Linked DNA regions of Homo sapiens: region 1 is linked to region 2. Evidence: fine-mapped QTL for protein levels in blood plasma. A gene starts in region 2. The other region holds a variant in brackets. All regions are shown on one strand. Distances are between the middles of the regions.

The links. PIP is the posterior inclusion probability: the model's chance that the variant is causal. The UK Biobank Pharma Proteomics Project read protein levels with antibody pairs (Olink). The fine-mapping took linkage between variants from a reference panel, not from the people measured, so its PIPs are less certain.
Region 1: its variant is fine-mapped to the plasma level of the TREML2 protein (UK Biobank, PIP above 0.99).

Annotation. Positions count from the first base shown.
Region 1 is chr6:41,308,791-41,324,675 of GRCh38, reverse strand. No RefSeq gene overlaps it. Among named protein-coding and RNA genes, the nearest start is that of NCR2, 19 kb to the left of the region's middle. RefSeq lists an enhancer at 4,935-5,476 and a silencer at 5,685-5,754. The variant A/C (reference allele first, on the strand shown) is at 9,222.
Region 2 is chr6:41,192,805-41,208,689 of GRCh38, reverse strand. It overlaps TREML2 (triggering receptor expressed on myeloid cells like 2), which reads left to right and starts at 7,541. Exons shown (of 5, transcript NM_024807.4): 1 at 7,541-7,736; 2 at 10,261-10,581; 3 at 13,857-14,265; 4 at 15,789-15,885. The coding sequence starts at 7,682. It also overlaps the pseudogene TREML3P. RefSeq lists enhancers at 88-197, 7,253-7,322.

The DNA of each region.
Region 1 (15,885 bases), 120 kb before region 2:
CAGAAGTCTGTGATCAAGGTGTTGGCAGGGCTGCACAGTCCCCATGGTTCTAGAGGAGAATCCATGCCTTGTTTCTTCCAGCTTCCGAAAACTCAAGCATATTAGCTGAAAACCAAGAGAACAAAAGGAGTTTCTTCATTCATTCCTACAATTCATTCAACAAATGCTTATTGAGTCTGCCATTCCAGACACAGGGAATAGATGGAGAGCTCGGGCACGTTTCCTTCACTCTTGGAGCTTATATTCATATTCAGAGAAGGGTGTTTGGTAGGATGGAGAAGGCAGACAGGAGACAGAAAATTAATAAGCAGGTAAAGAAAACCTAATAAACTTATAATAAAAGTAAACCCTATGCAGAAATAGAGTAATGTGATAGTCAATTTTAAGTTAAACATTTCGAATAAACGATAATCCATTATAACAAAAATAACCATTTCAGACATAGAAATATTTGATAGAATTTACCAGTGAAGTCATCTTGGCCTCCAACTTCAAGAGAAATATAGTCTTTAGCAAGACAAAATGCCATAAATATTTAAGAAAAAGCTAATATTGAACTTAAACTCTTTAAGAAAACTAGAAACATATCTCAATTCATTTTATAAGGCTCAAATCAGCCTGATACAAAAGGCAGGAAAAGGAATTAGAAGAAAGGAAAATGATAGACCAATGTCCCTCATGAACATCCTGAACACAGTATTCGTGTACTGAATTTAGCAGTATATAAAAAAGGTAATACACATGGCCAGATGGGGTTTATCCCAGGAACTCCAGGTTGGATTAACATTTGAAAAATCAATCAGTGTAATTCATGATATTAAAAAGAAAACAAAATATAAGGTCATATCAAAAAATGTAGGAAAACATTAGAAAAATTAGAACTATAAGCAAACTAGGAAAATAAAGGAACTTCCTTTTCCTAATAAAGGGTATCTGCAAAATACCTATAGTCAGAGTTACCTTTTATGATGAAAGACCCCATCATTTCCATCTAAGTTAGGAGAAAAGGCAGGGCTATCTCTCTCAGCACTTTTCTTTAATATTGTTCTGGAGATTTAATTACTTGATAAGGCAATAAAGGGAAACAAAGGGCATACATATTGTAAAGAAGAAGGAACATTGTCTTTATTCATAGACAACATGATTGTATACACATTAAATCCTAAGCGATCTACACAAAAAGCTATAACAGCCAATACTGAAATTTAGCAGTGTTTCAGGGTACAAGGTCAATATAGAAAACTCAAATGGACTATCTATATAATTGCAGTGTACCATAGACAAATGAAAACTTTTAAAATGACACCTAAAACAACATCCTAAACCATTAAATGCTTAGGGATGAATTTAACAAAATATGTGCAAGACCTATACATTCAAAACTATAAAATATTGATGAGATAAATTAAATTAAAATCTTTATTTAGTCTAGGGTGTTAAGGGTAAGACTAGAAGAGCTGTTTCTGTCGGTTCACACACATATAAGAAAATTTCTACTTAATTTTGAGCTACAATTTACTTAAATACATATATCCACGTATCAATCATCATTATCAAGATATAGAATGTTTGCATTACACCAGGAAGATAAGATAAATTAAAGAAAATCTAAATAAATGGAGAGAAATACCATGTTCCTGAACTAGGAGACTCAATATTGTTAAGATGTTAATTCTTGTCAAACTGATGTATAAACTCAATACTAGGTTACGTCACAGACACAAACCTAGTAGGCATTTTTGTTGAAATTGACAAGAGGACTCTGAAACTTACATGCACAGGGCACAGAGTAGCCAAAACAATGGGAAAAAGAAGTACAAAGCTGGATAACTCACCTCTGATTTCAGGACTTACTATAAAATTACAGTAATGAAGACAGTGTGCTACTGTAGTAAGGACAGACAGTTAAATAAATAGAACAGATTAGATAGTCCAGAAATAGACCCACACATATACGGGCAACTGATTTTTAACAAAGCCACCAAAGCAATTCAACGGACAAAAGCAAAGTGTTTTCAACAAGTGGTGCTAGGACAACTAGTTATCCATACAGAAAACTTAATTCTAAATGAATTATAGTCATAAATGTGAAAGTTCAAACTAGAAAACTTTTAGATAAAAACACTGGATGGCCGAGCATGGTGGCTCAAGCCTGTAATCCCAGCACTTTGAGAGGCTGAGGCGGGCGGATCATGAGGTCAGAAGTTCAAGACCAGCCTGGCCAACATAGTGAAACCCCATCTCTACTAAAAATACAAAAAATTAGCCCGGTGTGGTGGTGTGCGCCTGTAATCCCAGCTACTCAGGAGGCTGAGGCAAGAGTATCATATGAGCCCGGGAGGCAGAGGTTGCAGTGAGCTGCGCCATTGCACTCCAGCCTGGGCGACTGTGCGAGACAGCGTCTCAAAACAAACAAACACACAAACACAAAACAAAACAAAACAAACAAACGAAAACACTGGAGAAGATCTTTGCCTGTAACAAATTTTCATATACATGGAATCATACAGTGCAGATTATTTTATATGTGTCATCTTTTGCTTGGTCTAAGGTTTTGGAGATTAATTCATGTTGTTGGTGTATCATAGACCATTCCTTTTTACTGCTGAGTAATATACCATCGTGTGATGTGCTGCTATCTGTTTATCTGTTCACGTGTTGAAAGACATTTGGGAGAAGTGTATTAATTGTAAAGGCATGTGAAAGAACTTCCTGGTGTAATGCAAACATTCTGTATCTTGATAATGATGATTGATATATGGATATATGTATTTAAGTAAATTGTAGCTCAACACATTGAGTAGAAATTTTCCCATATGTGTGCGAACCGAAACAGCTCTTCTAGTCTTACCCTCAACACCCTAGACCAAATAAAGATTCTCTGAGCTGGAGGAGAAGAAAGAGAGGAGTTGAATGAAGTAAGAAGAGTGGACTTAAGGCCTGGGCTGGTGTGCACCTGTCTCCTGTCCCCAAGATCAGGCCAGGGCCCCAGTGAAATGTCAGGATCTGATAATAGCTGGTATCGTTTCCTTATTTCCTGAAACATGTCCTTGGGAGGTGGGGAATTTTACTCTCCCACCCACACTGGCATGGTAAAAATTATAAAAAATAAATTCATGGGTTTCTTAAGCAAGGGATAGAGATCCCAAAGTCATAACTCCTGAAATGCAAAACCTGGAAGTTTTTTCTTGTGTCTAAGAGTGAAGATGATCAGGTGGTGACAGTCACGGCTGGCCTGGTGGGGTCTGGAGGCTGGGTGAGGGGAGACACCAGCAGGTGAAGCACGGGCTCCGTGACCTGGGCCTAGAGGGGACCGCATACCTTAGCAGATGGCAGCCTGGAGAGGGAAATGAGCATGAGAGAGGAGTGGAGAGCCTCACCTGGTATTAAGCTAAATATGCAAGAATGATGGATCCTTATCCTGTGTGTGTTGGACTTGTTTTCACAACCTCATTGCCAAGGAGCTACAAGTGTAGCACACTTGCAGAGTCAAAGTAAAGGGCAAGTTCAGCTCAAAAAATGATTACCTGGGGCTGGGCGCAGTGGCTCACACCTGTAATCCCAGCACTTTGGGAGGCCGAGGCGGGTGGATCACCAGAGGTCAGAGGTTCGAGACCAGCCTGATCAACATGGTGAAACCCCGTCTCTACTAAAAATACAAAAATTAGCTGGGCATGGTGGTGCATGCCTGTAATCCCAGCTACTTGGGAGGCTGAGGCGGGAGAATCACTTGAACCCACAAGGCAGAGGTTGCAGTGAGCTGAGATTGTACCACTGCACTCTAGCCTGGGTGACAGAGTGAGATTTTGTCTAAAAAAAAAAAAAAAGATTGCCTGGGTTTCCCCAAACAATGCTTTAAACCCTTATGATGATTGTAAGGAACATGGCTGAGCTGCAGCCACATAGGCATAGGCTGAGGTAAACATCCCGCATGACTCAGCGGGACTGTAGCACAGGCACACAGTCTGGTGTATAATGTAAACACAGCTATGTAGCCATAACATGGAGAGGCTCATCGCCTGGCTTGGAGCCACTATTGTTTGTGAGGTGCATAAATGCAGCACCGACAGTGTGAGTGAGCTGCTGAATAAAGCCATGTCTCATCTACCTGCTGTCTCTTGAGTATTCTTCCAGCTCCCTGCCCTCCTGTCCACCTGCTCCCTTGGACCTCGGCTGGGGCTCAAACCTAACAATGATCAAAATGGAAAAAAAATATAAAGAAAAATTCTAAACTTAAAGATGCAAGGTAATTTTATTTGCTTCTTGTAGAATATTGTAAAATTTTGACAGCTATGAAATCTGAGACAATGGTGCTAGAATCATATGATGTCTGTCCCAAATTTGTGTAGAACTTGAAAGTGACAAAGAACTTTCAAATCCATTGTCACAGACCCTCCAGATCTTTTCCTTTGTCACCAAACCCTCCAGATCTTTTTCGGCCTCCTCTGCCTGATCTTCATCTCCTTCCACCTAGATGACAGCAAGAGCCCCCACCAGGCTCCTTCACTCACAGGTTTCACCTGCAATGTGGGTTGCACCTGCTGCACCTGGCCCTGACCCCGGAGGACACAGAATTAGTGCTACACTGTAGAGGACATGTGGAGGAGTGCAAAGAGCTCTGACTCAATCAAGGCCCCACTCTGATTAGCTTGATTGCACACACATGTGTGCATGTATGTGCTAGTGTGTATGTCCAGGGAGTGGTAGGAGGTATTGGGAAAGGAACTCAGGCCTATTGAGCTCTGAGACACTCACCCTTGAGTGTTTTCCTGAGCTGGTGGGAACCTCTGCAGGAGACCCAGGGCAGAGGGCCCCAGGCAGGAAGACCCAAGGGGAAAAAAAACCCACAAAAAACAAAAACAAAAAACATCTAAAAGAAGGCCACTGAAGTTTATCCAGAGCTATTCACCTCAGAGATTTCATAGGAGAGAATCTGCATTTTACAGACAGGGAACCTGAGTTCCCTCGAGGGTGTAGCATGCTGAGACGGTCAGTGGGCAGGTAGAATGCCCTCCTGGGACCCTTGTGGGCTCAGCTTCTTCCAGATTCTTCTCATGTGCTAAATCTTGGTTCCAAGGAAAGAAGTTACAGGTATTCCCTAGAAGAGTAAACAGAATAGATTCTAGAAGCAATTGGGGACCCCCCAGGGCTGTTTCCTCTAACAGGGCCACAGACTACTCCGTTCCCTGACGGCGACTTCCGGTCTCACATTTCCTGGACACCTCCCAGAGCCCTGTTCCCGCATAGCGATGAGACCCAGGCTCCTCCCAGAAAAGGCAACCCTTCTCAGGATTGGGGACCACGGACTGATTGGGGACCTTCCTCTGGAGCTTCTATTCCTGGGGATTCAACCTGGGCTCCCCACAGGACTGAAGGCCCACTTACACAGCACTGTCTGCAGCCTTGCGGGGTCTGAGACTCGCTATGCGTGGAGGCCGAGAAACGTGGACTCCACCTTCACTGTCTGCTGGTTAGGGAGGACTCCCCTGTCACACGGCAAAGAGAAAGTCAGAAGGGCCACAAAGAATAGAGTGTGCGAAGGTGTTCTGGCGACACTGCAGAGAGGAGACCAGGGAAGAATCAGAGAAACTGCAGGTGGCTGAAGATGCGCGCACGCGTGTGCACGCTGGCTGCAATAGCAGCCTCTGGCCAGCAGGGGGCAGGGGCAGCCTGTCCATCACCCCGGAGCGTAATCAGACGGCTCAACTCGGCTGTGCGCCCTTGGAGGCACACTGAAGAGCCCTCTGAAGAGCCACGTACGCAGCACCCTGGCTCTGCTTCCTGTCCTCCAGGACAGCGGCACGTGCAGTGGAAGGAGTGCTGGGCTGGGCTCCTGATGCCACAAATTCACTGGGGGGAACCTTAAGGGAATCACAGGGGATAGTGGCGACCGCTTCACAAGCATATTGTGGAAATGAAATTAGACTAGTCATTCTCAGACTCCTCTGCATGCTGGGATCATCTAGGGAGCTTCAGAAATGCAGATGCCGGATTCCACCCCAGTGCGCCTAATTTAATTGGTCCGGGTGTGGCCTGGGCTTTGGCATTTTAAAAATATTCCTCAGGTAATTCTAAGGTGCGGAGAAGTTTGGGAATTCCAGGGTCAGATACTCCTGTGACCAGCCACTGTAAACTCTAAGTTGCAAACTTGCTTTTACTCGTTTGCCTGAGGTCCCTTCTTTTCTACCTTGTTTCCGTATAATTGAAATTCGATCCCATCTGCTAGCTCATGTGTAACCTCTTCAGAATGGAAAATGCAGATCTGTCTCACGGTCTGAACTCAAACCATTCAAACATTTACTCCCACGAACTGTAGAAAGTTTGCCCAAAATTCACGATCTGATTAAAAAAATCCACTATGACAAACGTCTGCAAGCACCAAGGAAGACAGTCAAGGTGCAATGAGTGCAGGAGAGAGTGGAGGGTCCGTGGCTGTGGTGCCTCTGACGTTCCCCATTGGAAAGGGTTCTGGGGTTCTCACTGTTTAGTTCTGTCAGGCACCTGGGGGCACGACAAACTCAGGTCTAATTTAGATAAAATTCTAGCTTTAACTCAGTATTCCATGGTTATTTACATCACACTCCATGTTCATTACAGTGTAGAAGGGAAATATAATTTGTGTACAATACCACGTGTGCTGCACACGAACTCATGCACTAACAAGACTGTTCAACGTGAAATAATGTGGTATTTGGCATTTGGGGGATTACTGTTGTGCGTACTTTTTGGAGCATGTTATAGAAGATGTAAGAGGTTGCAGTAATAAGTGGGGACATTGGTTGGGGGTAGATGGCCTGGGAACACTTTACTCTGGCTCCTATGTGTGGTAATTAATTCAGACTCATGCTAGCTGAACATCGCCATATGCCACACACTGGCATGGACACAACCTTACCCCTAGAACTGGCCATGCCATATAGGTCTTTTTGACCTCAAACCAACTTTGGGAGTGTCCAAAAGGGTCCCTGGAATATCTCAAAAGAATTTATCTTCTCTTCTTGTAAAAACAGACATGTTAAACTAGTGAGGCTTATTTGATATGTTAAATTGCATGAGAAGCAATGTCAAATAATGGGTGATGCTAAACCTTCTTTAAGTTATGTTTGTTATTGATGAGTGTTCCAGAAATTATGTCAAATTCCTAGAAATCTGATATGTACTAGTATAATGTTATCATCCATAATTTTAATTATTATGTTAAAATGTCGTATGTTACCAAAGCAACCAAACTCCCTTGTCAGTTGCATGACACAGAATTGTAAGAGATTCATGATAAAGGCTGATGAGTACAGGTTTCTGATAATTTTAAGCTCATACTATAAGGCTAGGTAAGAATTTCCAGACCTCTAATGGAAAAGTAATGTATTTATAAATCTGCTAACCCAAGATCAAGCAAAACAAAAATTAATTATGTGAGACTAAATTAACTGATGAGAATAATTATAATTTTTATAACTTTTCGTTTGAAACATTGCTGGTTCTTTAATGTCTTGCTTTCTAGATTTAGGAAAACTTTTTTCTATAACTTAAAACAATTTGATAAAATATACTTTTGTAAACAAAAAGAAAACGTTTTTTTCCTCCCTACCTGATCACCCCATAATTTGGAAGCACTTATTGAATATTCTTATTTTCATGGCAATATAGGTATTTGCATAGGTTCAATAAGAATCTGTTCTTATAACAAGACATAATTGGGTAAGTCCTTAACTTGGCCTCCTAGCCTAGAGAGGTTTTTAAAGGTCTAATCTGAGATTCCTTGTTAACAAATAGTAAAACAAACAATAAAATGAACAAATAACTAAGATTGACTTATACAAAGTCAATAAAGCCCCTTGGATATTATCAAAACTTTGACAAAATGATGTATTTTAAAAATATGCATACATAGAATCACTTTTCTTGTTGCACTTATGTAAATAATCAGATCAAGTTTAATGAGACTACTGATTTTGCACAAAAAGAAGAGTTAACCATGATTATTTTTGGAAAAATTTGGAATGACCATAAAAAAGATTGTATTTCAATAGAAAACTATAGCACCCATCATCAAATTCTGGTCTTTGTTATGTCCTTGTAAATTGGATTGAATCCTAACATTTTCTAGTTTCACTAGAAACTAAAACTGCTTTTTTCCGAAGCCCTGCCAGCTGAAATTGGATGACTTTAAATTCAGAAAAATTACTACAACAGACCATGTATGGAAAATTTTCATGCTGCTGCTGTGTGGGTCACTTGGAGAATTCACTGGAACACCTGATGATATTTCCAGAGACATTCAAACTGCAAGCCAGGAAAATCCATCAGGTTGCAATTGCCATCCTCATTCCATCATCTAAAAATGCTTCAAACTCAAATTTAGAAATCTTGACAGGCTGCTCTCTGGACTTAAAGACTAAGATCATAATTTGTTCCTAATGTTAACCTTTTTTTTTTCTTTTGTTTTTATAGAATGCTACCTTGAATTCCCTTCAAGCAATACTATCTGAAATAAACAATTTAACCTCAATAGTACTCCAAAATAGAAGTCCTTGATACCTTAGCAACTTAACAAGGAGGCTCTTATTTGTAAAAAAAAATATTGTTTCTATATTAATAAATTAGAAATTGTTGAGCCCAATTTAAAGGATCTTAAGGAACAAATATGTCTTTTATCAGACAGGTGTTGCCTCCTCCACTGATTTATTTTATTGGTGAAATATTGGCTCCTGGGAATCTGTGCTCCAGGGAATTTAAAAATCCTTGGCTATTATTCTCTCTGTAGTCATTTTGTTTACCATCCTACTATATCTTATCCTCTCAAGGATTTCAAAGCTTTCCAGAAGGCACTCACACATCAAATGATTGCCATCATCATTAATTGACTTGAAGAACTCAACAACCCTACCACTGAAGCCCATGATGCAGGTAATGATGCCATGTAATCTTATATCCCAATACAACTGTTGAGGATAAGATTACATGACTCTTTGTTCCAGTGACTATTTCACTAGTGGTAACTGAGAGGAATGCTACCACCTTCTTCTTAGCTTGCTGAGAGGGTGACCCAACGCGGTGGGATTGTTAAAGTAAATTAAAATGGAGACCAGACCTGAAGAATCCCAGAGGGGACAAAAGAAGTTATGATTTGTAAGTGACCTAAACCTTGCTTGATTTGCAAACATAACCAAACTTAACTTGAGCTATTTCTTGTGAATGCCTATATATATCTATATCTATAT[A/C]TATATTTTTAAAAGCAGAACTTAAGCTCAACCAATCAGAAGTTACTATTTATACAAACTTAGATAACGAGGGGCTTTCCAAGTTGAGAGACCAAAAAAAGCAATTGTATAACAGTAACCAATTAAATACTTTGCTTTACTTCTGTGTCTGTCTTATAAAAGTCTCCTCTTTGTGTTCCTCAGTGGAGCTCCCAAACTATTTCTGGTTCGGAGCTGCTCAGTTCATAAATTGTTCATGCTAAAAAAAACTCACCAAAACTCTTTAAAATTTTACTGTGCCTCAGTTTATCTTTTTAACAGTTCAAAAAAGATTAAAATAAATGATAATTATATTCTGTCCTGGAGAAGTAGGGAAAAAGTCATTCTTATGCATTGTTGGAAGGGAATAATTGATAGCCTTTTCTTGGAGAGCAGTGGTGTAATGAATTAAAAGTCAGAACAAGAAAAAACAAACAAACAAAAGCACATGTTTTGGAACCAGCATTTCTAAGTTTTGTTTTTTTTTTTCTCAGCAAGTATTTTGTTGAGCATCTTCCTAAAAAGTCATGCCTGCAGCCTTTTTTTGCCCTGTATGGATGCACTGCCTCCACCAGTTGGTACACAGCTGTCTCTTCCTCATGTTTCTGGGGCTTCTCTTTGTCTCCTCTACAACGTTTTCTTGATTCTTGGATCTTTGTTTACTCCTTTGTACTGGTGGAACCCATCCTTGAGTAACTACGGGAGAAAGGGGGAATGGAAAATACATTTTGACAACTTTTATATTTAAAAATGCCTGTTTTACCATGACAGTTTGACTGATATAAAAAATTCTGAGTTGGAAACAATTTGTCCTCAGGATTTTGAAGGCATTGCTATGTTACCTTCTTGCTCCTATTGTTGTTGAAAAGTCAGGAGCAATTATGATAACTATGGCAATATGTGATCTGTTGTCTTCACTTTATCAGCGTTTTCTTTTTGTTCTCGGTGTCCTGGAATGTCACAGGGATGAGCCTTGGAGTGTGTCTATTTCCATCCCTTTGCTCCGCACAGTGAGTGGCCTTTTCGATCTAGAAATTCACAGGAAAATTTCTTGAATTAGTTCATGCATGATTTTCCCCTCTCTGTTTTCTATGTTCTGTCTTTCTAGAACTCCTTTTATTCAAGCATTCACCTCCTGGATCAGTTGTCTTTTTCTTTTTTTTTCTCTCCCATTTCTCTGTTGTTCTCATTCTCTCTCTGCCTCCCTCTGTTTTGGAAACAGCCCTTGGAGAAAAAGTTTTCTGTTTTTATTTATGGTTCCTTAGGTGGTCTCTGTTTCTTCCCAGTTGCCTTCACTATTCTCTGTTTAGTTTCTTTCTTCTCTTTCACTTGAGAGCTTTTTCTCAGGCCTGGGTAACAAAATTCTAAAGATAATTGGATGCTGTGAGCCCACAGTGGGGCTGGTGCCCTGGGAGTTTCACAGGAGGGTGACTCCTTGGCCATTTGCTTGAGGAAGTGCCTTGTCAATATCATTCAGCCTTCTCTCTTGGGCTGCTCAGGATCCCCAGGGAAGACTCACCCCATCTCTTGTCTGGAGGAAGAAGATCTGGCTGCCAACTTTCTGGAATCCAAATAGGAGAAGAGGGCTGGAGTGTTTCTCAGCTTCTGGTACATGTTCTTCACATAATCCCATGGTTTTCAGGACATTGTCACCATCCTCACCTATACCTATTGCCCACCCCTTCCCTACCACACACAGAAACCCAGCCTTCTTTGCAACCTCTCTAAGGCATTCATTCCCAGTTGTCTGCCAAGGTGGGTCAAGGTCGCTCATCTACAGAAAGTGGCAAGGGGATCTGGGTTCCTCATTGCTTCTTAAACAACTTTCTACCATTTCTTCTTAATCGGACTCCCCTAAACCACCTCCACTTTCTCAGCCATCTTGGCAATACTGTTGTGTAAATAAGACTTGACTTCTGCCTTCCTCAACTCTGATGAAAGGTTCTGTTTTCTCACTTCTAAGTCATTTCCCACTTACTTATATATTTTTTTCAGCTCCCCAAATTTTCTTGCTATTTTACCTTCTAGTTTCCCTCGTTCCTATGTTTCCTGCATTTCTTTATGTTCATTTTTGTGGGTTTTAGGAGCGAACAGAAATAAAGGTGTATGTTCCATCTGCCATCTTTCCCTGAGAATCTGAACGATGATCTTAGATTACAGAATCTATGATCATAAATAAAAATGGGCTGATAACCCATTATTCTTATTTGGTCCTTGTGTGGTTTTGGTATTAATATTGTTCTAGCCACAGAAATTATATGAGCAGCTTCTCCCCTCTTTTCTATTTCCTGGAATAAATTGTATGAATTAAGAAATATCTATACCTTGAAAATTCTTCTGTGCCTGAAGTTGCCCTCCCCTCACCTCTCTAGCAGCTGAGATGGTTATATGACTGGATGTTGATTTTTGAATTGTTGTTGCTCTAGTCAAGCTTTTAATCTCAACACCAATTTTAATATTTTATATCTTCCAGAAATGTATCCATTTTATTTAAGTTATTCAATTTATTAGTGTATGATTATTCATAGTATTGTTATTGTGAAAGTCTCTTTTGGGTGTTCAGGTATTTCTCATTTGTTCTCTTTTCTTTTCTTTTTTTCTTTTGAGACAGAGTCTCACTCTGTTGCCTAGGCTGGAGTGCAGTGGCGCAATCTTGGCTCACTGTAACCTCCCCTGTCTCTTGGGTTCAAGCAATTCTCCCACCTCAGCCTCCTGAGTAGCTGGGATTGCAGGCGTGCATCACCAGGCCTGGCTGATTTTTTGTGTTTTTAGTAGCGACAGGGTTTCACCATGTTGGCCAGGCTGGTCTCAAATTCCTGACCTCAAGTGATCCACCCACCTCGGCCTCCCAAAGTGCTGGGATTACAGGCGTGAGCCAATGTGCCTGGCCTGTTCTCTTTATTTTCTCTTTGCACTTTTAAACTTGTCTCTTGATTAGTCTTTCTACAGATTTGTATATCTTGTTCTTTTTTTTTTTTTCAAGGGCAGTATTTTATTTTGTTTCTTCTTCACTCCCTCTTCTCTCTTTCACACATATATTTCTCTATTTATTTGATTTCTGCCTATCTTAACTAAGATAATCTTAGCTCCTTTAACAGTATAGTTCCAAATCTCAGAGAGTAAAAGTTGATTTCTTACTCGTCTAATGGATGGTGACTCCGCAGGACCATTCAGGGGCCCAGGCTTTCTGTCCTGTGGCTCTGCTGACCTCCAGGTCTTCAGAGTTCTTTGCCTCCAGGAGTGGATGAGAAAAGAGAAAGTATGGCACATGGGTGTGTTTATAGGCCAGGTCTGGAACAGTGCCCATCACTTCTGCCCTCACTGCATGGGCTAAGATGGGTCTACCTGAGCATCTAGGAAGAGAAGAAAATAGGTATTTGTGAGCACCTTGTAGCTCTGCCTCTCTGCCTTCATTTCTGTCTTTTCTGCTGCTTGGCTGCAAAGCTGCACATGTGCTGGGCAGGACTCAGGGAGGCTGAGTAGGAGGAGCTACAGGCAGGTGCTGCCCATGTCAACAAGGTGAGTTGAGCAACAATGCACCTGAGAGACCCTAGCACCTACACTAACCTTCAGAACATCGCACCTGCCACTTCACCTCTGCCTTCCAAATCTCATGAAAGTTTCTCTTGCAAACCCAACACAGAGCCATAGAGGTAAGTGGATCCTCAGAAATGCAGTTCCAGCTTATCTGAGTTGCTGTAGCACAAACCCTGTGCACCTTCTCTCTCTCCACCACCCTTTCCCTCTGTAGCAGTTGTCCCCATGTGACGTATGGCTCACTTTTTTGTCTCCATCCTTCCATGAGAATGGAAGCTCTATGAGGACAGGGTCTTCGTTTACCTTGTATTCCCATATCCCCAGTCCTAGAACAGTGCTTGATGTATAGCAGTAGGTAATAAGTATTTCCTAAATTGGAATTAGTTGAGTATTTATTTAGTGTGTACCAGGCTCTGCTGTAAGTGCTTTGAAAGGGTTAGTTCATTTAATCTTCAAAACACCCAATGAGGGAGCCACTAAACACTTAGAACTGAGAAATGGAGACTTAGAGAAGCTTTGTAAATCACTCAACTCAGGCAGCTCATAAGAGGCCGAGTTGGATTATAAATGCAAGCAAGGGACTCCACAGCAATGGCACTGTGATTTAGGTGTCATGAAAACTACGGTAGAAGTGTAAATGAATCTATATATTTCTTTCCTCATTTTATTCATTTATTTTTAATACAGCCATGTCATACAGAAAATAATATATATTTTTTGAGACAGGGTCTTGCTTTGTTGCCCAGGCTGGAGTGCAGTGGCACAATCACAGTTCACTGCAGCCTTGACTTTCTGGGTTCAGCTGATCCTCCCACCTCAGCCTCCTGAGTAGCTGGGACTACAGGCATGTGTCACCTTGCTTGACTAATTTTTAATTTTTTTTTTTGTAAAGATGGAGTCTCCCTATGTTGCCCAGGCTGGCCTCAAATTCCTGAGCTCAAGTGATCCTCCTGCCTCGGCCTCCCAAAGTGCTGGGATACAGGTATGACTCACTGTACCTGGCCCAGAAAATAATTTTTTTAACCCCAAAAAAGGCTAGACCACTCAACAAGGGTTAATGAAGTCTGATAACTTGCATATGTTATACTAAAAGTTGGATAAGTACTTAGTGTAAGTAGAAAAATAAGTAAAAACTAGTTCAAAATGTATTTGTGGGCACTCCTTAAAATTATATCCAATAGAAAAAGATACCTAAGGGATTGAAAAAATCTTTAGAAGAGCTATACCCGTAGTATTTTGTATGAAACCATTCCACTTGGTAAATAGGTTTCCCAGAAACATTTCTCAATAGGCAAACTGATCCTGAAGGGAATGGGAAGTTGACTTTTGCTAAACTACTCTGCTCTGGTGAGCTCTCTAGAGGCTATGTGACTCCCAGGCCAGAATACTGGGGTCTGCTGCTTCCCCCCACCACTCCTGGGACTGGAGGTACCTGAGAAAAGGAGAGCCCAAGGGTCTTGGAAATTGGCTTGGAGAGCTCATATTCTATCCCGTGAGGGTGGCTTGACCTTATGGGACACTCACCAAGGTGGAGCTGAGCCTAGAGGATGGCTGTGACCTTCTCAAGGGTCCATCTTCCCAGTGACCAGAGAGCATGGCCTGCCAGAGGCACTGCCTGCAGGCCCTGGAGACCACTGACAGATCCTTTATTGGCTTCCCTGGTCCGTTGTTGTCAAGAACCCTGGAGGTTACCATCCTGCTGCCCTAGGACCACCAGCGTGTTCTTGGGGAGCTCACAAACATCCCTCTCTCGTTGAAAATGGATTTTTCCTTCTGTTTTACAGAGGACCCCACAAACTCAGCTCACTCACTGTGGACTTTAATCAATGTTATGTTTGGAGCATTGGGGGTAAGAATACTCAGACACACTCACATATACACATGCATGCTAACCCACATACACGCACACACATAGGTACACAAATGCACATGCATACCTGTGAGCTATACGTGAAGGCACATTCCTGCACACACACACATAAACTCAGCTTCATTTAGGAACATATAATACTGCTATGTCCTTTGGTTTTCTCATGTCATATTCTCTTCCATTTCCATTTCTACATGTAGGGTTAAATCACACAACAGAACAAACACGTGTGGCTGACTTTTGCATGTTTGAGGCTGCAAGGCTGGAATGGATAGAGCATTCTTCAAAATCTTGACAGTTTTTTACTCTTTTGTAGGTCCCATGCTATTTTCTTAGAAAAGCATAAGAAGTGATAAGGTTGAGTGGTGGGTGGGTCAGTCCGTGGAGAAAGAATGCCATGCTGAGATAGAAACTTATTTTGGAGTCAGTGAGGTGTTATGGTAACTTGATTAAAGTTAAATGCATGTAAAAAACAATAGGATTTCCAGCTCCCAGTCTGGCAAGTAAGGAGCTTGAAAATTGTCACTCCATCCTAACAAGTAAAAGTTGATCAAGCTGAAAAATCAATAACTCTAGAGCCCCCCAAGCCTGCCCCTTCCCATCAAGCCTGCAATTTTCCTCTGACTCTGTTCCTGCTTCCTGATCTTCCTCTTTCCTGCTCTGTCTCTGTTCCTTTCTTTCAGCCCAGGGGTCCATGAACAAGGACAATAAGAGGAAATCCGTCTTCCTATGACCAGTGATCAATACTCTGGTCACTCTCTCCTGTGTCCTCAGGGTGCCTGGTGACAGTCCAGAGATCTCTCTGAGAAGACCAATCACAACAATGGCTCAGAGTATTCCTAACCCTTAACTCAGAATGGACTTGGTGGTGGGGGCTCTGGAAAGCCCTGGGCAGTCAGTCCTCAGTCCCGGGAGCAGTAGAAGCTCCTGAAATCAAATGGTCTCTGAGCATGACTTGCTTGGGCAGCTGTGAAATATGGAGCAAAACAATTAGGAGCATATAGAGGGGAATTCTTAGTGCACACTTTGGAATGATAGAAGTAACTGATGGTGACTGAAGCAGTGTCTCCAAGCCTGGGAAGACTAGTAGACAACTGCTTTGATATTCTTTCAGATGTCCTACAGTCTAAAGGAAAAAGAGAGAAGAGGCCCTGGTCCCACTCCCACCACCACTGGATGTAAATTTAAGCCTTGGTCATTCTAGACTTGAGGCATGGCTTCCAGACACGTGGATTCTTC
Region 2 (15,885 bases):
GATTAAATTCAACCTCTGAACTGAAATGTGTCAGAGGCAACTAAGCAAGAAAGCAGATGTATCCCCTCACCCTCCTCCCCTCCCACCCTAAATGAGAAAGAAATGACTTAAAAATAAATAATAAAATTGAAACTAAGAAAGGCTGTAATCAGCAGACTGGAAACTGAGGAAGTCCTAGAAGTAAAAGAAAAAATCAGATGCCTTAAATGACAAGAGCAGTGGATTCAGCAGCCTAAAACAGGACCCAGAACATTCAATGGAATCTCATCATCAGGGGTCAAAATTCTGTTTGTTTAACGTGTGAGGAGATTCATAGCCTAAAAGAGAAAATCAAGTTGAACTAACAATATTTGATGGTGGGTGAAAGATAAATGTTTTGGGGAACAGAAGAGGAGCACACATCTGTGAAGCAAGAAAAGGCACAGTCATTTTCCAACCAGGTAACATCTAGCGAGACTGGGATTGACTACTCAAAATGGGGGTCCACCATGAACAACCAATTTGGGGTACCACTGCATAGCAGCTGAATGCCAGCCCTGAAAAAGGCCACCATAAAGAAAGTACCATTTTCTGGCCGGCTGCAGTGGTTCATGCCTGTAATCCCAGCACTTTGGGAGGCCACGGTGGGTGGATCACCTGAGGTCGGGATTTCGAGACCAGCCAGACCAACATGGAGAAACCCCATCTGTACTAAAAATACAAAATTAGCTGGGCGTGCTGGCACATGCCTGTAATCCCAGCTACTTGGGAGGCTGAGGCAGGAGAATCGCTTGAACCTGGGAGGCAGAGGTTGTGGTGAGCTGAGATCACGCCATTGCACTCCAGCATGGGCAAAAAGAGCAAAACTCCGTCTCCAAAAAAAAAAAAAAAAAAAAGAGAGAGAGAGAGAGTACCATTTTCTTTTGCTCTTTCTGGGGAGGGGCATTGATATGGTTTGGTTGTGTCCCCACCCAAGTCTCATCTTGAATTGTAGCTCTCATAATCCCCATGTGTTGGGAGGGACCTGGTGGGAAGTAATTGAATCATGGAGGCAAGTTTTCCCTTCCTTTTCTCCTGATAATGATTAAGTCTCATAAGATCTGATGGTTTTATAAAGGCCAGTTCCCCTGTACATGCTCTCTGCCACCATGTAAGATGTGCCTTTGCTCCTTCTTCACCTTCTGCCATGATTGTGAGGCCTACCTAGCTATGTGGAACTGTGAGTCCATCAAACCTCTTTTTCTTTATAAATTACCCAGCATCAGGTATTTCTTCATAGCAGTATGAAAAGGGACTAATATAGGCATCGAACAGAAGTCTCTTCATGTATATCTCAGCTCCTTCCACATGACCATCACCTATCTGTGAGAGGCACAACTTTTGCTTTCTTTATTTTTTTAATCCTCATTCCCTATTTCCACTTGCCTTCCCCTCCAAGGCAACCACTCTAATGCATGTGATATGTAACCTTAAATTTGAATATATTCTTGTAAAGCCTGCAGCTTTTTTTTCTGTGACTGTATTTTAACTTACATATAAGAAATTGTGATAGACATTTTTCATATATTCGTTTTGCTCCTTCCCGGGTACATATACAGAGCCCACTTCTTTTCAGTGCTTATTCCATTGTGTACATATCCCACAGTGTATCATTCTGAACCCAGGGTGCATGTGCTGTTTTGCCTCCACTTCTTCATATTGCAAACAATGCTGTGAGGAATATTGTCCATCATGTTCTCTGGTAGAATCAGGTGAGATTTCCTTTAGGACTTATACCCAGGTGGCATCAGCTGAGTTTTACGATCTCAGATGTCTAAGTAATGCTGTCAGCTTGTGTTGCCCGAAACACGAATCTAGACACTAGAGATTATTTTCTGTGAGTCTATGTGAAGTACACAGCACAACCTATGGAATAGTATTGCCAATAAAAAAAAATGGAAGGCAAGAGTAAATGTAGCTGAGTGATGCTACATGGGGGCTAGAAGTATGATTATCTTTTTAAAAAAATTTTTTTCGAGTCTGAGTTTTGCTCTTGTTACCCAGGCTGGAGAGCAGTGGTGCGATCGTGGCTCATTGCAACCTCCGCCTCCCAGGTTCAAGTGATTCTCCTGCTTCAGCCTCTGGAGTACCTGGGATTACAGGCACCCACGACCACGCCCAGCTAACCTTTTGTATTTTTAGTAGAGATGGGGTTTCATCATGTTGGTCAGGCTGGTCTCAAACTCCTGACCTCAGGTGATCCACCTGCCTCAGCCTCCCAAAGTGCAGGGATTACAGGCATGAGCCACCGTGCCCAGCCGATTATCTCTTTTTTGTGAGATACTTTTGTGCATGCTTGGGAATTTTCATAATTAAAATGATACCTAAAAATAAACAGTTGTGTGTCGAAGCCACTGCTGTTTGGTTTTCAGTCATATGTGGCTGAACCCAATCTTTTCTCGATTTACTGAACTTATGCAACTGCAGCAGATTGGGACGTGTTCACTTACAGTATGGAAATACTGAGCTTCACTTAAAGAACATGGGTAGTGGGATAAAAGTGGACTAAACAAAAATAGGTCTTCCTCAATCAGATGCTAAGAGCTAGCATTTAGTTATAACTTTTAAATATTTTATCTTAACATCCTTGGCCTCAAAATTGTCGTAATTCCCTTAACCACAATTTTCAAGTGGGTGGCAAATTTTATGTCATAAGTTAACATGTAAAAGACATATACTTCTTCAAAATTTTGAACATATTTCATTGTTTTCTTACCTTCCCAGTGTTGCTATGGAAATGTCTGATAACAGTCTGATGGTTATTCATCTTTACTGACCTATTTTATCTCTGGAACATTTTTATAATTTTCTCTTTGAATTTTTATTATAGTATGCTTAATATGGGCTATTTAAGTATCCATTCTATTTGGAACTCTCTGAATACATTCAATTTGATGTCTTAGATATTTGTCTAATTCTGAAAAATCCTCGGTACCATTTTTTCAAGTATTAATAGTTCTTCTGCTCCATTTACTCTTTTTTCTTCTTCTGGGAACAGAATGACAATAGAATATGTGGGAACTAAAAACGACAATAACCAAAATTAAAAGCTGACTACGTGGACTCCGTAGGAGAGTGGAGATGACAGAGGATGTAATTAGTTAACTGGAAGGCAGACTGAGAAAATTTACTCAGTCTGATCAGAGAGAAAACAGACTGAAAATAAATGACCAGAACGTCAGCTATCTGCGGGACATTAACATAAGAGCTAACCTTTGCATCATCAGAGTCCCAGAAGGAAAGGAGAAAAAATGTGAGACTGAAAATGTATTCAAAGAAACGTCTAAAGTAATCAAATCTGCCCAAAGACCTAAAGTTACAAATACAAGAATCTGATTTTATCCCAAATATAATAAGCCCAAAGAAATACACACCAAGACACAGCATAGATAGCCTTCTGAGAAGTAAAGACAAAGAAAATATCGTAAAAATGGCCAGAGAGAAATAATTATCTATAAAGGAATACCAATTCTAATTGTAGTGAATTTCTTATCTGAAACAATTGAAGCCAGAAAAATGTGGCACAACATTGTTCAAATGCTGTAAAAGACAAACAACACAATTGAATAAATATTTTTCCAAGGGTATACAAATGAGCAAATTGTGCATGCTCAAGATGAAGATGCTCAATATCATTAGTCATTAGGTAACTACAATTCAAAACTTAAGTACATTCACTGGATGGCTGTAAACAGAAAGCCAATACAAGTATTGGAGAGATTGTAGAGAAATGAGAACTCATACATTGCTGGAGAGGGTGTAAAATTTGCAGCCACTTTGGAAAACTATTGGTAGTTCCTGAAAATGTTAAACATAGAGTTGCCATATGACCCAGTAGTTCTACTATTGGTTATGTACTCAAGAGAAATGAAAACGTATGTCCACACAAAAACTTGTACATGAATAGTCATAGTAACACTGCTTATAATAGTTGAACAGTGGAAACAAATAAAATATTTGTCAACTGATAAATGGTAAACATATATATCCATTCAGTGGAATATTATTCAGCCTTTAAAAGGAATGATGTATTAATACAACGTATAGCACAAGTACAGCTACAACATGGACAAACCTGGAAAACATGCCAAATGAAAGAATCCAGTCACAAGGAACACATATTGTTCAATTATGTTTTTATGACATATCCAGAATTGATAAAGGCATTTTTGATTGAAGATATTTTTGTCTAGAAAGACAAAAATATTAGTGGTTGCCTGGGACTGTAGGAATGGGGACTGTGGTAAGCTGATAAATGGTCTCTTAAAAGATATCTGTGTCCTAATCCCTGGAACCTGTGATTGTTACCCTTATATGGCAAAAAACAAAAAAAAAATGATCTTTGCTGATATGAGTGAGTTAAACATCTTGAGATGGTGAGATTATCCTGGATTACGTAGATGGGAACTAAATGCAATCACATGTATCCTTATGTAAGAGAGTCAGAGTGGGATTTGAACACAAAGAGGAGAAAGTGATGGGAAGATGGAGCAGAGGGAGACTGAAGATGCTGGCCTTGAAGATTGGAGTAAAACAGCCCCAAACCAAAGAATGCTGGCAGCTACCTGAAGCTGGAAAGGCAAGGAACAAATTTTTCCCTAGTGTCTCTGGAGAGACTGCAGCCCTGTCGACATCTTCATCTCAATACAGTGTGAACTGACTTCAGACTTCTGCCTTCAGAATGGCGAGACAATAACTTAATACTGTTTTAAGCCACCAAGTCTGCAGTAAACGGATCCAGGGAGTGCCTGCTAACGGGCATGGGGTTTCTTTGGGTGGGGAAATCCTGCAAAATTGGTGTTAGTTGTACAACTCAGTGAATATATTGAAAACCACTGAATTGTATGCTTTAGATGGGTCAGTTTTATATTATGTGAATTATAGCTCACAGAATTGTTGAAAAAAGTCATTGTGACCTTGGGTTAAGCAAAGATTTATTAGATATGACATAAAAATTGATTCATAAAAATTATATATTGGACTTCACCAGAATAAATCAACATAAAGTGCTTCACTTTTCCATTCTGGAAAGAGAGAAATGACAGGAAAAAACCCCACCAGATCAGTGTTTGTCTGGGACTGAAGGGATGACTAACAAGGAGCAGAGGAAAGCTTTTCGGGATGATGGCACTCTTCTCTGTCTCCATTACGGCATTGGATACAAGTCTCTAGAACTCCCAGAACTCGTCACTGAAAAGGGTGAATAGTACTGTATGTAAATTAGGCCTTAATTTTTAAATGGGAAAAATAAATATAAAGACAAAATACACTGCTGTATTAAATCAAATGATAGATGTAAAAGTCTAATGTATACGTATTTTTAATGATTTTGACCAATGCTTCCAAATTTCTCTTAAGAAAGATTGAATCCAGTGCATACTTCCTCGATCAGCGAATGAATGTTTGATTCTTTCTACCCTCATCAGCACAGTGATCCCAAGGGTCACACTTTAGACGATGATTGGCTCAGTGCTGGGCGCACTGTATCAGTTTCATAGAATCATGGATTCCAAGCGCATAAAGTCCCCACAAGAGATAAATCCCCCACTCCTGAAGCAACTTACTGTTCTGATGGGGGAAGGGATGGAGGAACTTACTGTGTGTGCTGGGGAGGGGAGATGGCCCCTGAACTCAGGGAGCTCAGGAAGTTCTGAGGACTGGGTGAGAAACATTGAAAAAGGAAGGGTGAATAAGGAAAACAAAACACGTCTGTGAGCTGAGAGGTCTCAAGTGACAATCGTGTCTCATTCCTACGCCCCCAGTGCCTACCTAGCCCCATGCATAGCAATGAGGTTGTGGGAATGAACAAATGAATGAATGAATTAATGAGTGAGTGAATGAGTTGAGAGACTACAAAAGCTTAGGGTCAGCCGAGATAGACTTCTTTGCTTGGAGCTTGGGGCTTCAAGGTCAATTTAAGATTGTGGCCATGCAAGCTTGAGGACTTTTTGCTCTGAGTCCTGTTAAAATTAATGAAAATGGAGACCAGGCCTGAAGAGTCCCTGAGCAAAAATTAAAAAAACAGTTAGGCCTCATAAGTGACCTCAACTTTGCTTGATTTGCAAATATCAGTGAAACTTAACACGAGCTATTTCTTGTAAATGTGTATATTAAGGAAAAATAGAACTTAAGCTCAACCAATCAAAAGAAACTTATATAATTAACTAGGGTCTTTCCAACAGGATAGGCCAAATAAGGGAACTATATAACTATAACTAATTAAATATTTTCTTCAGTTTACTTGTCCTGTAGGAGTCTTCCCCTTGCATTCCCCCAGTGGAGCTCCTCAACCTCTTCTGTTTGGAGCTGCCTGATTCATGAATTGTTGTTTGCTGAAATAATCTGTTTAAAATTTTATTGTGCCTCAGTTTACCTTTTGACAGTCCCATCTAAGGAGTAGAAACATGGCACTAGTGAGTAGGGGGAGCATACATAATCACGGGAGTCCAGCTGGGTCCCCACACACTGAAGGAGCAGATGACACAGGTACCGGACATCAAAAATTGATGCTTCTGATTCTAGGCCTTGGGGTAAGTGAAGGGTGTGGTCTTGGGCCTAGTGCTGGGTCATTTCCACTGGAGCTGGTGGCTGTACAGGCGAGATAGCATTGAGCAGGAGGAAGTGGAGGGCACTTGCCTGCGTGCTGACGTAGGCTGGAGGCAGGGGAGGAAGGGGGTCTTGAGATGAGGTGGGTGAGGGGAAGTACTGCGGAGGCTGTAGGAAGCCTGCACGAGGGACTAGGAGTCTAGAGGGAGCTGATGGTGAGTAGAGTCGACAGGAGGAGAGGCAGGGAGAGGGACAGAGAGAGGAGACGTATGGATAGGGAAAAGGAGAGGCTGCTGGGGTGTGTGTGAGACTGTGTGCATGGGCGTGTGTGTGTGTGTGTGAAAGTGAATAAAAGACAAAGTGAGACTGTGAGTGTGAGTGCATGTGCATGCACACCTGTGTGTGAGAGTACAGGAACCCCTCCCTCAACCCAAAATTTATGCCCTGAGTCTTAACAATTTGCATTTTTCCCGCTTGACAAAAGTAAGATTTCAAGTGAGCCTGTAAGAGGTTATTTGCAACAGTGAACACAAGTGACTGTTCTGAGCAGCCAGGAGCCTGGGAGAGAGAGAGAGGAAGGAACAGAAAGAATCTGCAATGAATGAATGAATGAGAGTTTATAAGAACTTCCCTGTGAATGTATATATGTAAGAAACTAGGGTCTGAGATGCTCCATCTCAGCCTAAGAGCCCGCACCCCTGGGTCTCTGAGCCCAGAAGATTCCAGGAAGGTCTATACCTGACGTTCCAGAAGCCTCACCCCAGCCCCCTTGCTGGATCCTAGGGACCAGTTTCTGGGGGAGGTTGGGGAGGGCGGGGAGCCCTCTGACTGTGAGTCCTCCCGGCTTGGGGCCCCAGACTGGGTGGAGCAGCCACACCTGCCTGAAGTTCCGAGGAAAAGGGCGGAAACAGCTGCCAGCACCGCCCTCATAATAGGCTCAATGAATCCCTGCGGTTGGCTGGGGGCAGTGGGTCCCACACTGCCTCACTTCCCTAAATGGGCAGCTTCACTTTTAGAACCCCGGGTCCTTCCCTGGCAGGCCCAGGTGGCACATCCTGTGTCGGGTGGGCCCTCACCTTGGATCTCCAGGCCTGACACTGCCCAGCTGGATGGAACCATGGCCCCAGCCTTCCTGCTGCTGCTGCTGCTGTGGCCACAGGGTTGCGTCTCAGGTGAGGGGAGAAGGGGCTGACTTGTGGAGGAGGGAGTGGGTACAGAGGCAGGAGCTCAGGGCCTTTTTCTTACCCTCCTTACCAGCAGTTTTCTTGTTTAGTGTTTTGTGGGTTGGGGAAGGAGGAGATTAGGGCTGACTTAGCTCTTTACCCTAATATCAGGCCCCAGGCGAAGCTAACCCAGGCCTCCCAAGCCAAGATAAAGCTCTGGACCCTCTCTGCATTGGCTCCTTTATCTGCTAGGCTTCCTCAGGCTTTAAAGCAGAGCCCTCAATTTCCTCACACAAATAGCTTTCTCTGCTTGGCCTCTGTCAGGAAGCCCTGCTTAGTTATGACAGCAATCATTGCATCATGTGTGTTTTGAACTGAATTTGAACATTTTTCTTGAAATGCTGATGCCACATCCTGTCCCTGCCTCTGTCCTGAAGGGACCAGTGTGTGAATGCCTTTCCCACCTCACAGATACCAATGCTCCTTGAGGAACCTCACCCATTCCTGCCCCTCTCGCTGCCATGGCAACCAAGTTACCACTTCCTGTTCAGTTCTGGGCATGGTGGGGGTTGGCAAAACTCACCACTGCCTGTGAGAGGGGTGGGAGGTGTAGGCACACATGAAGACATTGCCCTGGAGACCCATCCCAAGGTCACCCAACTCTGCACCTCCCAGAGGGTAGAGAAACAGCTTCCCACTGCCAGGGCAGAAAGGGGTCTCTCTTGTGCTAAGAAATCCTGGGCTCATCCACCAAATAATGAAGTTGGATCATTCTGTTTAGTTTGCAAGGGACAGAGGGATGCTTAGAGAGGGTGCTGCTTCACACAGAGCCTCAGCTCTAGTGGCTGCTGGCTGGGACTTGGGACGGATATCCTGGATTCTGGTGGGACAGATGTCCTGGATTCTGGGCCCTTGACTGTCACAGCTCTGGGTTCCATTGGGGGAACTGGGAGGCCCCAGCATGTGGGAAAAGGAAGCATGAGTTGAGCATGCACTGTGTGCAAAGCACTGACCTGGGGCAGAATTCTCACAGCAACCTGTGAGGGGTGTGGTGCTATTCTCACTTGACTGATAAAGAAACAGAGATATTTCTGTATCAGTCAAGTGTCTGTTTTGATATTTCTGTATCAAACAGGTGACCTAATCACACCACTAAGTGGTAGAAACAGGGTTTCAACCCTTGTTTATTTTGACTCCAAAATGTGTGCTCTCTGTTCTCTACTATGGGGGAGAGTCTTTTTATATGTGGTTTTTTTGGAAGACTCTGGGGTGAAATTATCAGAAGAGTCAGCTGAGCTTAAGGCAGGCAGAGGGGTGGAGGGAGCCCAAGGCAGCTTTCTCCCTCTCTCTGTCCCCTGAGTCACCCTGCACACCCCAGTTCTGCTCTGTCTCTACCAGACTGTGGATTATGAAGGCTTGGACCACATCTTACTCCTCAGCATAGAGAGAAAGATATTGCAGGTGGAAAGTGAATAATTGTAGAATCCTGTGGTTCACACTCCATTGGGAGTTTGTTTACATGTATATTTAGACAGGCTTGATCTATGGGTTTTATGTAACTAGAATATTTTAAAACTAAACACCAGATGGAATGAACTAAGGAGAGTTATTATTTAAAGAGGACTAAGTGAACCTATTTGTGAAATAAATAACTGTTAATCATATTTTCAAATACTAGATTTTCTTATCTACCTAGTTAGTTGGGCACTGAAATTTCACAACTTAATGACCTGTGTTTGTGTCTCTGCATCTGTCTCACTGAGGGCATGACCTGGGTTTTTCCCACAAGAATTCCCTGGGATGCCGGGCACAGTGGCTCACGCCTGCAATCCCAGCACTTTGGGAGGCCGAGGCAGGTGGATCACGAAGTCAAGAGATTGAGACCATCCTGGCTAACATGGTGAAATCCCGTCTCTACTAAAAATACAAAAAATTAGCCGGACGTGGTGGCAGGCACCTGTAGTCCCAGCTACTCAGGAGGCTGAGGCAGGAGAATAGTTTGAACCCAGGAGGCGGAGGTTACAGTGAGCTGAGATCGTGCCACTGCACTCCAGCCTGGGCAACAGAGCGAGACTCCGTCTCAAAAACAAAACAAAACAAAACAAAACAAAACAAAAATGAATTCCCTGGGAATCCCTGAAGACAGAGCTTGTCACTTTCCCATCAGACTAGAAAATACCATGAGGAAAGGGGCTGTGTCTGATGGAGCTCCGAGTGTAAATGCTGCGTTTCCTCCATTAGACTGGGGACTCACTGAGGGATATACCTGCCTCCTCCATCAGACTGAAAGCTCCCTGAGAGCGGGGGTTGTGTCTCCACTGTAATACTGGAAGCTAGCTGTTTTCAGGGCCCATTCACCTCCCTTCAGATTGGGGCAAGCTCCCTGAAGGCGGGGCTGTATTTCCCCCTCAATCTGTGGGTTCTGTGACAGCAGGACAATATCCACTCTACCCTTCACCATGATCTTCAACTTTCATGATGTCTTCTTCCTCTCCTCTTGCCAGACCTTATTCAATAAGTATTGTCTCCACAGGCCCCTCTGCTGACAGTGTATACACAAAAGTGAGGCTCCTTGAAGGGGAGACTCTGTCTGTGCAGTGCTCCTATAAGGGCTACAAAAACCGCGTGGAGGGCAAGGTTTGGTGCAAAATCAGGAAGAAGAAGTGTGAGCCTGGCTTTGCCCGAGTCTGGGTGAAAGGGCCCCGCTACTTGCTGCAGGACGATGCCCAGGCCAAGGTGGTCAACATCACCATGGTGGCCCTCAAGCTCCAGGACTCAGGCCGATACTGGTGCATGCGCAACACCTCTGGGATCCTGTACCCCTTGATGGGCTTCCAGCTGGATGTGTCTCCAGGTGAGCAGGCTGCAGTGGCTCTGGGACGGGTGGAGGGAGTCCCTCCTGCCCCACACTCCACTAACATCAGAGATAATAAGGATAATAATCCATCAGTGGTCATGTTGCACTGTAGTGTTTTCAGAGTGCCTTTATGGCACTATTCGTGGCACTATTGTCACCATTTTACAGATGAAGATAATGAGACCTGAAAACCCAGTGTGACTCTGAGCTTGTCCGGGGTCCCAGAGCTAGCAGGTGGCTGAGATAAGGTTCAAACTTGGCACTGTCTGTGCTGTGTTTTATTCACTCATTGCTTCAACATAATTCATTGAGCCCCTATTATGGGGCAGGCACTATTCTAGGCTCTAAGGAGACAGTGAGCAAAAACACTCACAATCCTGCACTATGGGAGATGACAGGCACACTTATTATCCAGACAAATAATTGCAGAAAACAAGAGGTGTTCATAAGAAACTAGGAACTGTTTCAAATAATTGCAAATAACTAGAGGTGTTCATGAACTAGTAAGCGACTCGGTGGTGGGGGAGCTACTGAAGTACTGGGGGTCAGAGAACACCTCCCTTAGCAGACAACACCAAGCAGAGCCCTGAATGGTGAGCATTTTCCAGCCCTGTTGAAATCTGGGTGCTTTGAAGAGCACTTTGTCGCAAGAGCTGAATATGCAAAGGTCCTGAGGTCAGAAGGAGCTTGGCTTGTATAAGGCTTATTTAGTCACTCTATATGGAGTGTGAGGCAATGAATGAGGAGGTTGGAGAGTCAAGCAGCCCTGAAGACCATAAGTTGGAATTTAGGTATAAGAGGAAGCTACTAGAGAGCTCAGAGAGCTGTCATGACTTGTTTTTAAGAATGTAGTGGCCACTTGTTGAGGATGGATTGTGAATGGTATGAACACGGGTAGAGAGGCCATTGTGGGCATCTGGCTGGAAACAACAGTGGCCTGGAGTACAATGTAGGCACTAGTGGCAGAGAGATGTGAATGGGCTCAAATCTATGTTTTTCAGACTTTCTGTTCAGCTCATATGTTTTGAAGGTAGGACAGGATTTGCTCAGTTGAGGGGTGAGCCAAAAGGAGGAATCATGGATGATCCAAGGTTTTCTATTTGATCAGCAGGTGGATGATGGTACCATTGATAGCGTAGGGTAAATCTGAAAGAGGAGCTAATTTGGAGGAGAAAAATCAAGAGCTCTCTTTTGTCATGTTAAGTTTAAGATACCTCCTAGAACCCCAAGTGGGGAAATGCAGCCAGCAGTGATATACCTGCCTGGAGCTAGGGTGAGAGGTCAGAGCTGGGGTATGTATTTGAAAGTATCTCTATAAAGATAGTGTTTAAAGTCCAGGGAATTAGAGAAATCTACAGACACAGAAAGTAGATTAGTGGTTGCTTAGGGCTGGGGGAAGGAAAAGGGGATACAGAATCATAGATAAACAGTAAGGGGTTTCTTTTGGAGATGATGAAGGTGTTCTGAAACTCACTGTGATGATGGTTGCATAACTTTGTAAGCATAATAAAGAACCACTGAGCTTTATACTATAAATGGGATGTGAGTTATATCTCAATAAAGTTCTTAAAAATATCAAGATCTAAAAGCTCTCCCTTGAGTGTAGGCAAAAAAGAGTGGAGCACCAAGCCGTGGGGTCCTTCCACATTTATTAGATAGAAAAGGGAAAGGACTCAGCTAAAGACCCCGGAAAAGGCAGCCAGTTATTATGCAATTTACTATCCATCCTTCCCCGTTCACCTAACCCAATTGCATCTCCATCTTCCACAGGGTCTGAACTAGGGAAAATGCTGTCGCTAAAATGTGGAGCCAAATCTCATTGCTCCCCTCTCCAGTTCTGAGTGAGACCCAGGGAAGTCGAAACTGGTTCACTGAAGTCTTAATATTTAGGGATAGAAACATTAAACATTATATGCTTTTATTTTTTCTCATCATTTCCTCTAATCATGTTATGTCACATCTCACTTTCCACCTCTTAAGGACAATTTGTGAAGATTTCAACTTTGCAGACCTTTTCTGTTATTAGGAAATAAAAAAAATCCTTATTCCAACTACAAACTCTGGTCATCTAGCAGTATAGGATATTCCACTGCCCCCTGAAGACCAGGTTTTATGGTCCAAGGCATCTAAAGTGGAGAAGGAAAGTTACTGGCTGCCCAGCTCCCCATCCTGCATCTTGGGCTGTGAAGAAGGCGGGGTTCCTCTTGGTTACCTCTTCTTGGCCCTCTTAGTGTGTTGATGCAGGAATGAGGGAGGGGGAGATGGTTATGTGGCTTAACTGAGTGTTGTAGGAATGCTTTCCCTGTTGGATGTCATTGCTTGTCTGCCAGCCCTTTGAGATCCTCTCTGAGTGTCCATATACTCTCCCAAGGCACTGATGTGTGAATTCTCTGAAGAGTTCTTTGGGGGTGTCCCCACTGCTGAGTATGATGTTGTGGGAGCTCTGACTCCAGGTGAGCGTCTTCCTCTATTCCCATCCTCACCAATGCTGCTTGTTCTGGGTCCCCTTCTCCAGAAAAATGGCTCAAGCTCAGCCACCTTCCATGATGACAATTTGGCCCTTAGGAAATTGCCCTTTCCATGCACAGTAGTGGGATGTAGCAGCCTCTGTCTCCAATTTTCACATTCCATGCTGAGATAAAACCATCACTCACTGCTAGGTTGATGCCTCACAGCTCCTCCACCTCCCTCCTCATCCACTGTCCAAAACCCAGGCTTCTTCTAGAAAATGGGATGGAAAAGGGCTGGGTTGATGGGTGAGTGTAGCAGGACCAGTTTGATATCTCTTAGTGAGCCCCCAAGGAAAGTGTCTGACCCCAACTGACTGCAGCTTTCTTTGGAATTTGAGGACCTTGATGCCTCCTTGTCCTCATCTCTGGACCCTACTTGTCAATTATGGAATAGCTGGAAAAGTTCTTGTTTGACATTATTTTATGGAAATCTTTTTGGCCCATAGGAACGAAGAGGGCCTGGAAAGTGAAAAGAGAGAGATGGGGATGGAGAGGGAACAGGTGGCCTGACACGGGAGGGAAAAAGAAATTGTGGTAGTCTCTCCCTTCTTCAGTACACCTACTTCCTTCCTCCTGATATCACTTTCTGAACAAATACACATCTGATCACTCAGCAGCCAGAATCCTAGGCCCAAGGTCAAGGAGAAGAGAAGAGGACAGGCCCCCATCCAGGCTTCCAGGCAACTGTGTGGGTTGCCAGGATCTGCTCCCAGCACTGAGGCACCCAAGTCAATCTAACGTTCCTCCCTTTCTGTCTTTCAGCTCCCCAAACTGAGAGGAACATTCCTTTCACACATCTGGACAACATCCTCAAGAGTGGAACTGTCACAACTGGCCAAGCCCCTACCTCAGGCCCTGATGCCCCTTTTACCACTGGTGTGATGGTGTTCACCCCAGGACTCATCACCTTGCCTAGGCTCTTAGCCTCCACCAGACCTGCCTCCAAGACAGGCTACAGCTTCACTGCTACCAGCACCACCAGCCAGGGACCCAGGAGGACCATGGGGTCCCAGACAGTGACCGCGTCTCCCAGCAATGCCAGGGACTCCTCTGCTGGCCCAGAATCCATCTCCACTAAGTCTGGGGACCTCAGCACCAGATCGCCCACCACAGGGCTCTGCCTCACCAGCAGATCTCTCCTCAACAGACTACCCTCCATGCCCTCCATCAGGTACCTGTGGGGCCTGGGGTTGAGTGGCACCAGCACTTAGTGCCCAAACAGACCTGGAGGTGCAAGTCTTATATCTGACCTTCCCCTTTTGCTCCCCAGGAACCCAATGTGGCCTGCTTCTGAATGTGAGGTGGGGGACTGGAAGTGACATAAAGGATGGCAATGGAGAGGAGGGGCAGGAGAGAGGAGGGGCAGGGGAAAGGAGGGTCGGGGGTGGGGAGGAGGGGCAGGGGAAAGGAGGGTCAGTGGGGAGGAGGGGCAGGGGAAAGAAGGGTGGGGACAGGAGGGACAGGGGAAAGGAGGGTCGGGGGAGGAGGATCAGGGAGGAGGAAGGTCAGGTGAAAGGAGGATCAGGAAGGATGAGGGTCAGTGGGGAGCGGAGTTGGTGGGAGGAAGGTGGGGGAAGTGTCAGCAGAGAGGAGGGTCGGGATAAAGGTAGGGGGAGATGAGGGTTGCAGGGATGAGGGCAGGGGACTATGAGAGTCGGGGGCATTAGGGTCAGGGGGATGAGGATGGGGGTAAATGAAGGTTGTGGGGGAGGAGAGTCAGAGAAGAAGGTCAGTGGGAGGAGTATCAGGGGAGAGGGGGGCTGCAGAGATGAGGGTAGGGGGCAATGAGAGTTGGTAGAATTAGGGCCAGGGGGGATGAGAGTCAGAGATGAGCATGTCAGGGGATGGGTGTCCTGAAGTGTCTGTGGATGGAGAGGAGAGGGTGAGGATAGGGCAAGGATGCGCCTCATGGAGTAGGAAGTGGAAAATGGGGGATGCTTTAATTTGGATTCCTCTAGAGAAACTGACTCTGAGTCAGGGATTTGCGTCTTATATGAACACTGGAAAAAAGGTGGGGGAGTGGGACAGGGCAGGGAAGGCCTCTAATAAAGAGTACTTAACCAAGCAGCTGCTGTGCACAACAAGAGCCTAATCCCAACGGGGAGAGTCAGATCTAGCATAAAACACACATCTGAAGGGCAAAGGAGCCCGCATAGTTACACACCAACTCCAATTGGTTATCAGTAGAGGGCTGCCTGCTGTGTGTGGCATAGAGGGCTCTAGTGACAAGAGAAAGGCCTCAGCCTCCCACCCACAGAAAAGGAGGTGCTGATGATGTGTGCAGGTGGAAATGACACAGGCAAGAGGACACAGGCAGGGGCCCGACAGCATCTGCTACAGAGGATAGAGTGGGGGAACAGGCATCCTCAGACCCCTTGAGGAGAGCAAGCATCTTGATCTCTTTAGCCACAAATGGGAGTCTCCTAGAATCCTCATCCTCACTGATGAACAGATTTGGGGGCATAATGGAGGAGAGGTACCAAAGTAGAGAGATGTTCCCCTCTACCTGGGGACGTCCTCCTCTTAACTCCGGATGTCACACTTGCTTCTGTGGCCGGGTCTGTAAGGAAGAGGGTGGCCGTCTACCCCGGGAAGGGCACGCTCTCAGGGTTTCTGCTGCTGGTCCGATCCCAACGTGGGTTAGGATGGGGGACCTTGGTGCTCACCCGCTTCCACCCTGTCCCTTCTTCTCAGGCACCAGGATGTTTACTCCACTGTGCTTGGGGTGGTGCTGACCCTCCTGGTGCTGATGCTGATCATGGTCTATGGGTTTTGGAAGAAGAGACACATG